2 separate regions of the Homo sapiens genome follow, and region 2 is linked to region 1. Evidence: fine-mapped expression QTL. Tissue or cell type: naive CD8 T cells. Region 1 holds a variant in brackets; the other region holds the start of a gene. All regions are shown on one strand. Distances are between the middles of the regions.

Evidence for each region. PIP is the estimated chance that this variant, and not a neighbour inherited with it, causes the effect.
Region 2: it holds the start of NDUFA6-DT, and the variant in region 1 is fine-mapped to the expression of NDUFA6-DT in naive CD8 T cells (Schmiedel 2018, PIP 0.95).

The regions. Positions count from the first base shown.
Region 1 is chr22:42,129,301-42,137,454 of GRCh38, forward strand. CYP2D6 (cytochrome P450 family 2 subfamily D member 6 (gene/pseudogene)) reads right to left here and starts at 1,510. Exons shown (of 9, transcript NM_000106.6): 1 at 1,312-1,510; 2 at 438-609. The coding sequence starts at 1,491. RefSeq lists promoters at 1,516-1,982, 1,569-3,101, a cis regulatory region at 2,795-2,806 and enhancers at 6,935-7,523, 7,524-8,111. The variant C/T (reference allele first, on the strand shown) is at 3,669.
Region 2 is chr22:42,086,248-42,094,422 of GRCh38, forward strand. NDUFA6-DT (NDUFA6 divergent transcript) reads left to right here and starts at 4,686. Exons shown (of 5, transcript NR_034118.2): 1 at 4,686-4,934; 2 at 5,050-5,353; 3 at 5,872-5,985. NDUFA6 (NADH:ubiquinone oxidoreductase subunit A6) reads right to left here and starts at 4,525. Exons shown (of 3, transcript NM_002490.6): 1 at 4,359-4,525; 2 at 813-928; 3 at 1-67. The coding sequence starts at 4,497.

The sequences.
Region 1 (8,154 bases):
GGTCACAGGGCCCACTCTTTGTGCATCCACCTTGCTCCCTTGGCTGGGGCAGGGCTTTGCCCCACCTCGTCTCTGCCCACCCTGACCGCCTTTGCACTCAGGGAAGACCCCGCGGGCCCCGCGCCACCCACACTGAGCTTACAGCACAGGTGCGGTCCCCGCCCCCCACTTCGACACCGGATTCCAGCTGGGAAATGCGCCAGCCTCACCCATTGGGCTCCTGCCAGGTCTCGGCAGTGGCCCCGCCCACTCGTCACAAGCCCCGCCCTCGTCCCCATGCTCACACCTCCCTAGTGCAGGTGGTTTCTTGGCCCGCTGTCCCCACTCGCTGGCCTGTTTCATGTCCACGACCCCGCGCCCTCTCTGCCCAGCTCGGACTACGGTCATCACCCACCCGGGTCCCACGGAAATCTGTCTCTGTCCCCACCGCTGCTTGCCTTGGGAACGCGGCCCGAAACCCAGGATCTGGGTGATGGGCACAGGCGGGCGGTCGGCGGTGTCCTCGCCGTGGGTCACCAGCGCCTCGCGCACGGCCGCCAGCCCATTGAGCACGACCACCGGCGTCCAGGCCAGCTGCAGGCTGAACACGTCCCCGAAGCGGCGCCGCAACTGCAGAGGGAGGGTCAGGGCCTCTTGTCAAGCCAGGATCACCCCAGACTACAGGTCCTAGTCCTATTTGAACCTTGGACGACCCCCGGGGCTACCAGGAGTGAGCAGGTGGAAGGAGGAGACCCAGCCTCCTGATCGTGGGGCGGGGGTGGGGGTCACACCTTCTGTGATGGAGGAACTCAGTTTGGATGCGTCACCCAGGTATGACCTTGCAAGAGTCACCAAAATTGCCGAGAGGCCCCAGTTAGCATCCCATTCCCAGATGATGGTCCATGCCGGTGAGCAGTGAGGCCCGAGGACCCACAGTGCAAAAGGTTTGAACCGGGTCACTGCACCCCCTTCATCCTCGATTTCGTGATTTAAACGGCACTCAGGACTAACTCATCTTCCATTCCCAAGGCCTTTCCTTCTGGTGTCAGCAGAAGGGACTTTGTACTCCATAACATATGTTGCCCAATGGGCTTGCATGCCCACTGCCAAGTCCAGCTCCACCTCCAGGCCCTTGCCCTACTCTTCCTTGGCCTTTGGAAAATCCAGTCCTTCATGCCATGTATAAATGCCCTTCTCCAGGACGTCCCCCAAACCTGCTTCCCCTTCTCAGCCTGGCTTCTGGTCCAGCCTGTGGTTTCACCCACCATCCATGTTTGCTTCTGGTAGGGGAGCCTCAGCACCTCTGCCGCCCTCCAGGACCTCCTCCCTCACCTGGTCGAAGCAGTATGGTGTGTTCTGGAAGTCCACATGCAGCAGGTTGCCCAGCCCGGGCAGTGGCAGGGGGCCTGGTGGGTAGCGTGCAGCCCAGCGTTGGCGCCGGTGCATCAGGTCCACCAGGAGCAGGAAGATGGCCACTATCACGGCCAGGGGCACCAGTGCTTCTAGCCCCATACCTGCCTCACTACCAAATGGGCTCCTCTGGACACACCTGGCACCCCCACCCCACCAGGCACAGAGGACCAGGCAGGACACTCTCAGCACACCGAGCGCGTGACCCTTCCCTTATAAAGGGAGCTGATGATGGCCTTTGCCCTCTGCTGTGAGTGAACCTGCTGTGTTGACTGTGCTGCCAGTGGCAGAGTCAGGCCAGGGCGGGTATGGGCTGCTCCAGAGGTTCTTGCCCCTGCTTCCTGCTCCAGGCCCTTACCCAGGGTAGGCCGGTGGAGGGGCCTGGTCGGAGAAGTCACCCCCTCTCCCCACTCCAAGCTCCTGAAGCCTGCAAAGCCTTCTGGGATAACCAGGGTTTCAGTGGACCCGGCCATCCACCTCCCAGCTAGGCTCATACACCCTAATGTAGTCACAACCCCTCCTCCAGAACATGGCCTTGCCCTTTCCCTACCCCCACCTGCCCACTCCAGAGTGACCTTCAGCACCCTTATCTGTCACTGGCACTTACCTGGGGCCTTAGAGCTCCTGATGATGAGTGGCATCATGGGCCTGGTCCCTTCACTTCACCTTGCACTCTTGACATGCACAGACGCTATGCACACACCTGATGGTGCACAGATCTCTTGTCCACTCCCAGACACTTGTCCACTTGTTCACACTTGCAGGGACACGATTACACACGCAGAAAATCACCCACACAAAGACAATATTCACACATACACAGACTCACACTGACACTTAGGGCACACATTCTCTCTCACACACACCAGTCACACACACATACAGACCCGGCACCAAGTACCCCACTTCCCAGCCATGCCGGAGGTTTCCTGGATGGGACCACTCCTGTCCAGAGGCTGCTCCCAGCCCAGCCCACATTCCTGGGCTCTGGCCGGGCTATGGCTTCTTGTTTGCAACAGGGCTGTTCCCAGAGCTCCCAGTTGGTAGCCGGAAGGCCCTTGCCCCAGCCTGTGACAACATCCTCCCGGGCTGCCTGAGGGTCGTCCTCCTCCACTGCTTTCTGGCCTCCATGTTTCTGATTAGAAATCTGGTGGGAACGTTATGGAGGATCCTTTGTTCAGGATATGTTGCTTTATTTTTTTTTTCTTTAGACAGGGTCTCACTCTGTTGCCCAGGCCGGAGTGCAGTGGCAGGATCATGGCTCACTGCAGTCTCGACATCAAGTGGACCCCCTGCCTCCCAAGTAGCTGGGACTACAGGCACCACCCAGCCTAATTCTTTTTTTTTTTTTTTTTTTTTTGGAGACGGAGATTTCCTCTTGTTGCCCAGGCTGGTGGCTCCCCTCCATTGTGCAATGATGCAATCTCGGCTCACTACAACCTTCACCTCTAGGCTTCAAGCAATTCTCCTGCCTCAGCCTCCTAAGTAGCTGGGATTACAGGTGTGTGCCACCACGTCTAGCTTTTTGTATTTTCAGTAGAGATAGGGTTTCACCATGTTGGCCAGGCTAGTCTTGAACTCCTGACTTCAGGTGATCCACCCACCTCAGGCTCCCAAAGTGCTGGGATTATAGGCATGAGCCACCGCACCCAATCCCAGCTAATTTTGTATTTTTTGTAGAGACCGGGTTCTTCCAAGTTGTCCAGGCTGGTCTTGAATTCCTGGGGTGAAGCGATCCTCCCACCTGGGCCTCCCAAAGTGCTGGGATTACAGGCCTGAGCCACTGTGACTACCTGATACGTCTCTTCTCTCTTGCTGCTTTCAAAATCCTGTCTTTTGTGGGAGGGCAGCTGCCGAGCTCTGGACTTCTACGGGATCATCCACTGAGGACAGGAGGACCGGGCCCTCTACAGGTGGATTGTATGGCAGCTGCCATGCTTGGAGCCAGTGCTCACCGAGCACGTGGCGGCTGTGGAGCTGGACGCGGGGTTGATAAGTCCGCTGGGGGTGACGGGCTCATCCATGAGTGGTACTTGATGTGGCTGCAGAAGGCGGATGTGGTGGTGGCAGAAGTGACACAACTGTCCCTGGGTATAGGCTATGATCTGTGCCAGGCCACAGCCCTCAATAAGTGAATCCTGTGCCTGCTCCAGCCGCAGTCTGGTGGAGTGCTGTCGGCCATGATCTGGGAAGAGGCAGATGGCTCTGGGTTCCAGGTGTGGGACTACGGAGAGGGACAGGTGGAGGCCCTGCTGCATGGATAGGTTGAGGCTGATCCT[C/T]CCGAGCAGGTTGCCTCCCCTAACCCAACCATTGGACCTAATCCCATTTTATTAAATTCTTCTCATCCCAGACACTGCTCTAGTACCAGTCCTGGCTCTTTGCCCCAGGAGCAAATTAAAAGGTACATTTAAAATTCTAAAAAAAGAAAAATCTGTCTTTTGACAGTGATTATGATGATGCGTATGGCTGAAGATCTCTTTGAGTTTACCCTACTTGGAGTTTGATGAGCTTTTTGGATGTACAGATTAATATTTTTCATCAGATTTGGGAGGTTTTTCAGCCATTAATTCTTCAACTATTCCTTTACTCCTTTCTCCCTGTCTTCTTTCCTGGGACTCCCATTGCGTGTATGTCGGAAAGCTTGACGGCGTCTCCAGGTCTCTGGATCTCTGTGCATTGCTCTTCATGCTTGTTCCTGTTCCTCAGAGGGTACTACCTCAGGTGGCCTCTCTCCATAGTCACAGGCTCTTTCTTCCAATTGTTCCAATCTGCTCTTGGGCCCCTGGGATGAATTTTCATTTATTTTACCCTACAACTCCAGAATTTTTATTTGGTTCCTTTTTAAACTTTTTTTTTGTTTTTTGTTTTGTTTTGTTTTTTGGAGTATCGCTCTGTCACCCAGGCTGTAGTGCAGTGGTGCAATCTCGGCTCACTGCAATCTCTGCCTCTCGGGTTCAAGCGATTCTCCTGCCTCAGCCTCCCGAGTAGCTGGGATTACAGGCACGTGCCACCACGCCCGGCTAATTTTTGTATTTTAAGTAGAGACGGGGTTTCACCATGTTGGCCAGGCTGGTCTCAATCTCTTGACCTCATGATATGCCCGCCTCAGCCTCCCAAAGTGCTGGGATTATAGGCATGAGCCACCATGCCCAGCCCCTTTTTATAAGGTTCATCCCATTATTGATATTCTCTAATTGGTGAGACATTGTTCCCACACTTTCGTTAGTTCTTTTGACATGGTTCTTTTCTTTTTCTTGGGAGAGGGTCTCTCTGTCGCCCAAGCTGGAGTGCAGTGATGCAGTCATGGCTCACTGCAGCCTCAACTTCCTGGGCTGAAGTGATCCTCCTACCTCAGCATCCTGAGAGGCTGGGACCATAGGCAGCCAGCTAATTTTTTAAATTTTTTTGTAGAGATGGGGGTCTCACCACATTTCCCAAGCTGCTCTCAAACTCCTGGGCTCAAGCAATCCACGGGCCTCAGCTTCCCAGAGTGCTAGGATTATAGGTGTGAGCCACTGCACCAGGCCTACACGTGGTTTCTCCCTTTGAAGTACTAGCCAGGCCTGACCATGCTTAGCTTCCGAGATCAGCAGGTTCCAGCCGGTGCAGCCTCAGATGCAGCATGTTTTAGGTCTTTGAACATATTTAAATGAGCTGACTGAACGTCTTTGTCTAGCAATTGCAGCATCGGGCTGGTCCCATTGGTGACTTTTCCCGTGTCTGGGTCGTCCTTTCGGTTTCCTTTCCATGTCTCATAATTTGTTAAAACCTGGACATTTCACGGGCGATAATGTGGCAACTCCGGAAGTCAGATTCTCTTCCCTGCCAAGGATGTGTTGTTGTTGTTGCCTGTTGGAGCTGTTTCTTTGCTGGGTGACTTTTCTGAACTAATTCTGACTAAGCATTAATGTCTCCATTCCCTGCGAGCTGTGGCCACTGAAGCCGCTCTTCAGTTACGGCAGTGGTCAGCTAATGACTGGTCAGAGAGTTCCTTAGGTGCCTGGAAGCGAAGTCTTTGCCGAGTGGGTCTCTCTCTGTGTGCCGGGCGTGGCTTCAGTGCTCGGCTAGGCAGTGCTCAACTTTCCCTTAGCCGTCACCTGCTGTCTGCACAGCACCTCAGGTCAGTCACGTGTGAGGGCTCAGGGCCTTGCCGGCCTTCCTGAATATGGGCACAGCTGCAGACAGCCTTACCCACGTGCAGGGCACCTAGATTCCCAAGAAGGGGCAAGAGCTGTTCAAAACCACTACAAGCTGGACATGGTGGCTCACACCTGTAGTGTCAGTGACTCAGAAGGCTGTAATGGGAGGATGACTTGAGGCCAGGAGTTTGAGACCTAGCAAGACCCCATCCCCCACCCAAAAAAACAAAAACAACAAAAACTCACTGTGGACCGCTCATGCCCCAGCTGCTGCTTTTTAACCCCAGCTGTTATCCATCACCACAGGCAGCTTCGATTTTCAATCATGGATCTGATGACTTTCAACAAACTTTCCTGAGGAAAGTGCTGTTCTCACCAGAAGAGATCTCAGGACAAATGTAGACAGCCCTGGCAAGTGGGGTCTCCCTGGGAGCTAGCAGACAGGTGAAAGACTGACAGTTCTTGGGGAATTAGGCTTTTCTTTTGTTTTGGAGATGGCGTTTCATACTTATCACCCAGACTGGAGTGCAATGGTGTGATCTCGGCTCACTGCAACCTCTGCCTCCCAGGTTCAAGCAATTCTCCTGCCTCAGCCTCCTGAGTAGCTGGGATTACAGGCACCCACCACCACGCCCAGCTAATTTTTTGTATTTTTAGTAGAGACGGGGTTTCACCATGTTGGCCAGGCTGGTCTCGAACATCTGACCTCAGGTGATCCACCCATCTCGGCCTCCCAAAGTGCTGGGATTACAGGCGTGAGCCACCCTGCCCAGCCCAATTATAGATTTTTTAGGTTTAGGTGTTGACAGTAGCTCTCACCTCAGCCTGTTCTCTCTCCTTGTCATGCAGCCCACAGGGGAGATGGTCAGGCCAGTGTGGGGGCTAATGAATAAATGCTACACTGTGCCCACTCAGGTGGGTAAGGGCTGGCACTCCTCTTCCCCTGGAGTGGGGCGGCTGTGCTGGCACCCTTGGCAGACACAGTAAGGGGGACTGCACCTGGAAAGGATGGGCCAGTCGGGGCAGGACTACTCATCACTCATAGTGTGGGTGTCAGGGTTGTGTCACCCCTCCCACCTCCCTCTGCAGAGACGCAAAGTCAAGAGTAGGAAGAAGCCAACCTCTGAGGTAAGGCTTCCCCTGGAAGGCCCAGGGCTGGGGCTCTCTCCTTTCAGAGCTCAGTTAGACCCAGACACACGGCAGGGAGTCCCAAGGGTAGTGGCAGGCCCCCTCCAGGAAACTCACAAGGTTACCACAGCTCAACTGAAAAGGAAGAACTTCCCAGGACTGTGACACCCCAGTGTGAGAACAGGAGGATGAGGTGCTCTGAAGGCCTTTCTGCCCAGTCTGCCCTCTTATTCCTCCTGCAGGTCACGACCCCCAGGAGACCTGGAGGACTGAATGCTGCTGCCCCCAAGGAGGAGGCTGCCGTCTTATCCCAGGAGGGAGAGCAGGTGAAGTCCCCAGGGGAGGAAGCACCTAGCCCCATTCCTGCTGAGCAGGAGGTGGCAGGTACCCCAGACTGGGAGGTAAGGACAGCCCGGGGCTTCGACTGAACGTCTCCAGCGTGGGTCCAACTGAGCAGCCATGGAGCACTGCAGAGTGGGAGGCAGCAGGGCAGGGAGGCAGTGCTGGAGGCTGGCTCAACCCCAAGACCAGCAGGCCAAGCTGCCATCCCAGGGGAGCGAGGACGTCTGTGCAGAGCTGAGAGGCAGCAGCCATGTGTGAACAGACTGGGCCTCATCCTGGCCCCACCGACTTTGTGTGGACAGAGCCTGTTTCCCTGTCTGTGCAACACAGAACCTGCCTGATCTCACTGCTGGATCCCTCTTCTTCCTGCCAGGAAAATAAAAAGGTTCAAAAGGAAGTTGCTGCGTATCCATCTGGTAAGACCACTGACCCAGCGTGCTGCAGGGGGCTGCTTCCACCCTGCTTCTCAGTGACTGCCAGGGTCACAGACACCCCAGCCCTTTCCCACCTTCCTGACCTGGGGAGGGGAGGGGAGGGAAGCAGCCCAGGAGTCAGGTGCCTTGACCTTCCTGGGAGCCTCCTTGGGTGGGCAGGAACTCTGGGCCACTCCCCTGAGCTGGCTGCATCCCTACCTTTCACCACAGCTGACCTGGCCCCGGGGCATCTCAGAGGGAGGGTTGGTTGCTCCCAGGAGGGGACTCACAAGGCTGCCTGTTTCTACTTTGCAGAGGCCTCTGAGGACAGCAAAGAGCAAAGGCCCTGGGACCGGGTCTACGTGCCCATGACAGAGCTCTGGCTGGACTGGTTCTGAGCCTCTAACACCCCCAAGACTCAGAACCGTGAAGAAAATCTTTCCAATAAATCCAAGAGTTGCTGCTGCTATAGGCCAGGCTGCCACCTTTCGGGGCCTCCGTCTTCAGACAAACCCAGCCTGGCTTCATCCACACTCCCTGTCCCCACAGCTGCAGGAACAGCACTTCCTGCCACCGAGCCGTGTGACCACAGTGGATTGTCTCTGGAGGGGCCCAAGGGGGCCCTGGCCACCCTTCTGACTGACTCGGTGCCAGGGGACAGACCAACGTCCCTCTCGTGCTGACAGCCGGGCCGCACCCTGGCATGAGGGCATTTACAGAAATGCTGGCGGAACTGCTGCCAG
Region 2 (8,175 bases), 43 kb before region 1:
GGAAGAACCGCATAACATGTGTCCGCTGCTTCCATACTTTAATTGTTTCTTCCAGTTCGATCTTTCCCTGAACAGTGAGGAGAGAGGTCATCAGTCAAAGTTGTCAAGTTGAAGGCATATGACACTGAAGGCCAGGATTCTATTCTCTGCTCAGCATGGACTTGTTGAATGACCTTGGGCAAGTAACTACTCTGTCTGGGCAAAGTTTCTATGTCTGGACAATGAGGTGGTCAGGGTAAATCATTTCTGACACTTTTCAGATTCTTTAACTCTGTGGTTAACTGGTACCAAGAGGAGAAACATACAGGTTAACAGGCTCCTATCCCATGACTACCTAACCTGACTGGCTTAACTTATGTTTCTGCTTATCATTTCTTCTGTTACTGACTGGTCTATGCTGAAGCTCCCATTGATGCTAACGTGACTGGCCAGGGGGACAGAATCAGCCCCAGGATTTGAGTCCATTTATACAGGACTCATAACCACCCTAACTGCCTCTTCCAGCTGTAAACTGGCATTCAGATGAAGTGGTAACTTCTAGGGATGAGGTTCAAGAAGAGTTCAAACTTTCCTCCCTATATCTTTTTTTATGGTTATAAAATGCAAGTCCCAGTGGATGTTCCCTTGATGAATCTTATCTATTTAACCAGATGATAACCTCCAAGTTCAAGTATTTCTCTGAAACACAGCAATAATCACTGCCGAACCAGTAGCTGCTTTCTAAACTTGGAGACAAAATGTTCATTTGGAAAGACTAAGAAGTAGTGGACAAGTTGGCTGATCTTTTAAATTGGTCAGGGAGGGTCAGTTACCTTAATGACCAGAAGATCAACCACCCTGGGGTCTGTGACATGGGCATTCTTCATAAACATTTCTCGGACTTTATCCCGTCCCATTTTCACAGTGATGTCCAGCTGGAATTGGTGCACTAGAGAGAAAAACATGACTCAGGGTAGAAATTGTATGGTTAAATAAAACCTAGAGTCAAATGATACTCATTGAACACATACAGGTCGCCCATTCATTTCTTCACCAAAAAATTAGCCTGACCCTAGGCTAGGTGCTTGAGGATGAGACATGTGATTCATGGTATTTGCTCTCAAGGAACTTATTATTTGTTTGGGGAAAAAGACCACTGAATTTGAAGAGGCAGTAAAGCATTGTTCAAGAGTTTGAACAACCTGGGTTCAAATCCCAGCTTTTGTTAGCTATATGATCCCGTGTAAGTTAACTTTCTTGTGCCTGAGTGTATTTTTTAAAAAATTATTTTATGGGCTGGGCGCGGTGGCTCACGCCTGTAATCCCAGCACTTTGGGAGGCCGAGGTGGGCGGATCATGAGGTCAGGAGATCGAGACTACCCTGGCTAACACAGTGAAACCCCGTCTCTACTAAAAATACAAAAAATTAGCCGGGTGTGGTGGTGGGTGCCTGTAATTCCAGCTACTCGGGAGGCTGAGGCAGGAGAATGGTGTGAACCCGGGAGGTGGACCTTGCAGTGAGCCGAGGTCGCACCACTGCACTCCAGCCTGGGTGACAGAGCGAGACTCCGTCTCAAAAAAAATAATAATTATTTTATTAGCTGGGCGCGGTGGCTCACGCCTGTAATCCCAGCACTTTGGGAGGCCAAGGCAGGTGGATCACCTGAGGTCAGGAGTTCAAGACCAGCCTGGCCAACATGGTGAAACCCCGTCTCCACTAAAAATACAAACATGAGCCGGGCATGGTGGTGGGTGCCTGTAATCCCAGCTACTCGGGAGACTGAGGCAGGAGAATCACTTGAACCCGGGAGGTGGAGGGTGCAGTGAGCTGAGATGGGCCACTGCATTCCAGCCTGGGTGACAGAGTGAGACTGTGTCTCAAAAAAAAAAAAAAAAAAAGGCTGGGCGCGGTGGCTCACGCCTGTAATCCCAGCACTTTGGGAGGCCGAGGCGGGTGGATCATGAGGTCAGGAGATCGAGACCATCCTGGCTAACAAGGTGAAACCCCGTCTCTACTAAAAATACAAAAAATTAGCCGGGCGCGGTGGCGGGCGCCTGTAGTCCCAGCTACTCAGGAGGCTGAGGCAGGAGAATGGCGTGAACCCGGGAAGCGGAGCTTGCAGTGAGCCGAGATTGCGCCACTGCAGTCCGCAGTCCGGCCTGGGCGACAGAGCGAGACTCCGTCTCAAAAAAAATAATTATTATTTTATTAGCTGGGCGCGGTGGCTCACGCCTGTAATCCCAGCACTTTGGGAGGCCAAGGCAGGTGGATCACCTGAGGTCAGGAGTTCAAGACAGCCTGGCCAACATGGTGAAACCCCGTTTCTACTAAAAATACAAAAGTTAGCCAGGTGTGGTGGCACGCAACTATAATCCCAGCTACTCGGGAGGCTGAGGCATGGGGAAATCACTTGAACCCGGGAGGTGGAGGTTGCAGTGAGCCAAGATCGCGCCATTGCCCTCCAGCCTGGGAGACAAGAGCGAGACTCTGTCTCAAAAAAAAAAAAAAAAAAAAAAGTGAGTTATCATTACTGTTTTTTTCATTAAATACTTAAAATTTTACTTTTGTTTTTTATTAATGCTCAGGCTGTTCTAAGTTCTCAACACTATTACTTATTCCCCTTCCTTGATTTGATTCCTCAGCTGGAGTCCTGATGATGGATACCATAAAACCCGTGTGGCACAGGTTTGAGTAACTGGCCAGCTACAGATCACTGATCTTCCCCATAGGGATGCATACTCCTTGACCCCTTCTTTTCTCTCCTCTTCCCTTGCTTTCTAGGCTCCTGTAGCCCTCTGCCTTCTTTTCCTCCTCTCAAGACCCTTCTGACTTTGGGACTTTCTTCCCAAAACAGAATTTGAGGGAAGGTCTTGGGAGGGGTCGGTTTAGAAAGAGCTGGATCCTCAGAGTCAGGATACCTGGGTTCTGTCTTCTACTTGGCCACTGATTTACCCTTCACAAGCCACCCTTTTTGAATGTGGTCCTCCTTCCCCCAGCACCTTCCTCCTGCAACCAGAGAGGGTTCTGGGTACTCCTAGAAGTATTCTGCCAGGCAAACATTATGTTTTCAAACTGCTGAATTTGAATGCACCACCCCGAAACACACACACACACACACACACACACACTGCTACAGTCACTCCCCACACACATCTTTTATCTGCCTGCCCCTGAAGGCATCTGAATTTGCAGTCCCTGAACCAGCAGATCACTCAAGTTTCTCCTTCTCTAGTATCGCGTGGGTTTAAGTTCTGGTCAGTAGCAATTTTTCCAAAAGTCAGCTTGAAGACAGGGACTCTGTGGAGCAGACACAGTTCTCATATGTCAAAGAACCGGGTTCTGCTTGGAAGCTGCTGCTAAGGAAAGCCCTATAAATAACAAAAATAACAACAAAAACAACGGCAGCAGCTAATATTTAATGAGTTAAATATGCATCAAGTCCTGTTCTAAGCACTCTAGATATTTTAACTTAATACAGTAACCTTCTGAAGAAGGAATTATTATTCCCATTTTAAAGATGAAGAAACTGAGGAATAGATGAAATAACTGGCCCAAGGTCACACAGCTAGTTGAGGGCAGCGCCTGAAGAAAAGTCCGTGCTCCTAACCACCACATTCTACCGCCTTTTCACACACACAAGCAGGGACTCGACAGCCCTGAGGAGTGGCACCGTGCTCCAGCTCACTCAAAAACACCTCTTTCTCGCACTTTGGGAGGCCGAGACGGGCGGATCACGAGGTCAGGAGATCGAGACCATTCTGGCTAACACGGTGAAATCCCGTCTCTACTAAAAATACAAAAAAAAATGGCCGGCGTGGTGGCGGGCGCCTGTAATCCCAGCTATTCGGGAGGCTGAGGCTGAGGCAGGAGAATGACGTGAATCCGGGAGGCGGAGCTTGCAGTGAGCCGAGATCGCACCACTGCACTCCAGCCTGAGCGACACAGCGAGACTCTGTCACAAACAAAAAAATCCAACGGGCATCTATAATTACACTCTGCAACTCTAGACTTTGGGTTCTGGGTACAACAGTGGCTCGGCCTGGGCCCTGGGCACATCACTTCACCTCTCGGTGCCTCCGCTGCCTCACCCACAAAGTGAGTGTGTCACTGACAGTCATCGTCCTCCCGCCAATTGCGAAGGACAAAAGAGACCAAAGCTCCGATAGCACGTACGAATGCTAGGCACGGCCGGTCTGACCACCGCGCCGCCGCCAGGTCCGGCCCATGGTAGGCTCGGGTGACCCTCTTCCCCTGAAGCACCCGCAGTCGCCTCTGCCCAAGTTGGTGACCTCAGCTGGGCCCATGAGAAACCCCGGCCGGGCCGGCTACGACCTTGAGCGGCGGCCTCCGGGTCCCCACGTAAGCCGCTACCTCTCACCAGTGTTCGGCACCTCCCGATACCAGGCGCGGTAGAGCTCGCGCACCCTCCGCTTGGCCTCGTTCATGTCCCGACTGAAAATGGGCTTCACGAAGGTGCTGGCGGTAGAAGTAGCTTGGCGGACGCCGCTCCCCGCCATCTTGCCAAAGCATCCACTCCACAACCCCACCCCTTTGCAAGCAGCGCGTGCGGACCGCGGGCGAATGTCTTTTCCCATTGGCTAAGGAGGAACGCCCCGCCTGTATGCTGGGTGGGCGGGAGGATGACTCTGAGGCTCTCGGATTGGCTGGGAAGCCTCTCTCTGGCTGAGCGAACGGTGGGTGCTGCGCATGCTCATCTACAGAAACGCCGCTTGGCCTTTGGACTACACCATCTGTCGCTCGCTCTAACGAGCCGGCGTTGCCGCCAGGGGACGCTCGGGCCGCAGGAGGTCGCTGGGTCGTGAGCTGGCGCCGGGGACGCCGAGCGACTGCGGGGTTTCCCTCAGCGTCCTGCTATCCGGCTGCCCGCCGCGCTCCTTGGTAGTGTCCGTGGGCGCGCAGGCCTTGAAGAACCTCCTCGTGGCGGGACCCCGAGGTAACTGCTGAGGCAGATAATGGCGCCTGGGCTGCGGTGGGGCTTGTCCTGCCGCCTGGCGGCTTTCTGCAGGGCCAGGATATACTTACTTTTCTGTAAACCAACTCTTCCTTAGCGCAGGAGAGGTGTCAAAGAGCTGGCGCGTCTCCAGAGCCCCGGGAGGAAGGCTGTAACGGCAGCCCCATCGTAGACAGGGACATTCGCATCCCGAGCCCTGGATCTCTGAAAACCAGCCCAGAATTTGGAAGCTGGAAGGAACTTTAGATCGTCCATTCTGAGTGTCTCTCTTCGCTGGCGTTTTCCCACTGAGGTTATGTAAACATGAAGAGGAGCCTACAAGTGTCAAGGAAAAAACGACAGCTAACCACAGGGCAGGCCATGGGCAAGATATCTCAGTGTTCTCCGCTCTCATAGGTCAGGTAGGTACCTCAGCATCCCCATTTTACAGGTGAGGAAACTGAGATGGCCCAGAGTCTAGGTCACCTGACAGATCGCCCCCACCTGCCTGACTGCTGCCTAAGAGGCTCCGTCTTTTTCTGAAGGTGTAGTTGACAGGAGCCTGTGAGTATTGGGGAAGGGCCAGGGGCCGGGGCTGAGCATCTACTCCAAACTTTCCCATTTCGAAGGGTTAAAAAACCAGATATACTTTTTTTCTTCCTTATTATCTTCTAAAATGTATATATATATTCAAGTGAGCTATACAAAAGAAAGCACGTAACATATATAAATTATAAAGCATAATAATAAAATGGAAGCTTTTGAACCTCAGTACTGACTTAAGAAGTTGTAACACAGTTAAGGTTTGTATAAAGTGTCCTTAGATGTCCTTAGTAGCCACTGTTCTCTAGTTCTCTAGGTACATTAACTTGGCTAGGCTTCACAACACACCAGTGAGATTGTGTTGATATACCCTTTTTTTTTTTTTTTTTTGAGACAGAGTGAGACTCACCTAGGCTGGACTGCAATGGTGCAATCTCGGCTCACTGCAACCTCCGCCTCTCATGTTCAAGCCATTCTCCTGCCTCAGCTTTCCGAATCGCTGGGATTACAGGTGCGCACCACCATGCATGGCTAATGCTTGTATTTTAGTAGAGACGGGGTTTTGCTATGTTGGCCAGGCTGGTCTCAAACTCCTGACTTCAGGTGATCCACCCACCTCAGCCTCCCAAAGTGCTGGGATTACAGGTGTGAGCCACTGCCCCCGGCTGATATACTCATTTTATAGATGAGAAAACTGAGGCACAAAGAGACTAAGTTACTTTACAGCATTGGGGTTGAAGCCCAGGCAGCTGGTGCCAGAGTCAGTTTTCTGACTCTCGCAGCACCTATACCATGATATCTACCTGTATGATTCTAACCTTGTGTATACCCCTGCCTCCTTCAGAAGTACCCACTATCATGATAAATTCATTGTGTTCAACATTCAAAAAAAAAATGGGGCGCAGTGGCTCACTCCTGTAATCCCAACACTTTGGGAGGCCAAGGCAGGTGTATCACCTGATGTCAGGAGTTCGAGACCAGCCTGGCCAACATGGTGAAACCCCCGTCTCTACTAAAAATACAAAAATTAGCCGGCATGGTGGTGGGCACCTGTAATCTCAGCTACTCGGGAGGCTGAGGCAGGAGGATCGCTTGAGCCCGCGAGGTGGAGGTTGCGGTGAGCCAAGATTGCGCCGCTGGACTCCAGTCTGGGCGACAGAGTGAGACCCTGTCTCAAAAGGAAAAGAAAAAAAAGACCTCTAAACAACCCACAAACTGGGAGAAAATTTTTGCAAATCACATGTTCCATAAGGGACTTGTATCTAGGATACATAAAATTCTTACAACTCAGTAATGAAAAGACAAATAGCCAAGTTTAGAAATGGGCAAGGGAGACAACACCAAATGCTGGTGAGGATGTGAAGCAACAGGAACTCTCCTTACTGGTAGGAACGCAAAATGGTACAGCAGCTTTGGAAGACAGTTTGGCTTTCTGACAAAACTAAACATACTCCCATCAGAAGATCCAGCCATTGCATTCCTTAGTGTTTACCCAAATGAGCTGAAAACTTATGTCCACACAGAAACCTGCACATGGATGTTTACAGCAGCTTTTGTTTTTGTTTTTGTTTTTGAGATGGAGTCTCGCTCTGTCACCCAGGGTGGAGTGCAGTGGCGCGATCTCGGCTCACTGGAAGCTCTGCCTCCTGGGTTCACGCCATTCTCCTGCCTCAGCCTCCAAGTAGCTGGGACTACAGGCGCCTGCCACGAAGCCCAGCTAATTTTTTGTATTTTAAGTAGAGACGGGGTTTCACCATGTTAGCCAGGATGGTCTCGATCTCCTGACCTCGTGATCTGCCCGCCTTGGCCTCCCAAAGTTCTGGGACTACAGGCGTGAGCCACCGCTCCCGGCCAGCAGCAGCTTTATTTGTAATTGCCAAAACTTGAAAGCAACCAAGATGTCCTTTAGCAGGTAAATGGATAAATAAACCTTGGTATATCCAGACAATGGACTATATTCAGCACTAGAAAGAAATGAGCTATTAAGCCATGAAAAGGCATGGAGAAACCTTAAATGCATATTAGTAAGTGAAAGAAGACAATCTGAAAGAGCTACATACTGTATGATTCCAACTATATTACATCCTGGAAAAGGCAAAACTATGGAGACAATAAAAAAGATGGCAGGGGCTGGGAGTGGGGAGAAATGCACAGAGGTGGTGCACAGAGAATATTTAGGGTAGTGAAATTACTCTGGATGTTATAATGGTGGATACATGTTATTACACATTTGTCAAACCCTACAGGATGTACAACACCAAGAATGAAACCTAATGTAAACTATGGGATATGGGTGATACTGGTGTGTCAATGTAGCTTCATTGCTTATAACAAATATATCCTCTGGTGCCTGATGTTGTTGGTGGGGGGAGGCTATGAGTGTGTGTGGGGTGGGGGAACCCTGTATTTTCTGTTCAGTTTTGCTGTGAACTCGAAACTGCTCTTAAAGATGAAATTTTTATTTTAATGGGTAAAGTATTTGAATAACCATTTCTCCAAAGAGGATATACGGGTGACCAATAAGTACATGAAAAGACATTCAACATCATGAGCCATTAGGGAAATAAAAATCAAAACCCTCGTGAGATACCATTTCTCACCCAGTAGAATGGCTAGAGTGAAAAAGGCAGACACAGCCAGTCACGGTGGCTCACACCTGTAATCCCAGCATTTTGAGAGGCCAAGGCCAGTAGATCACTTG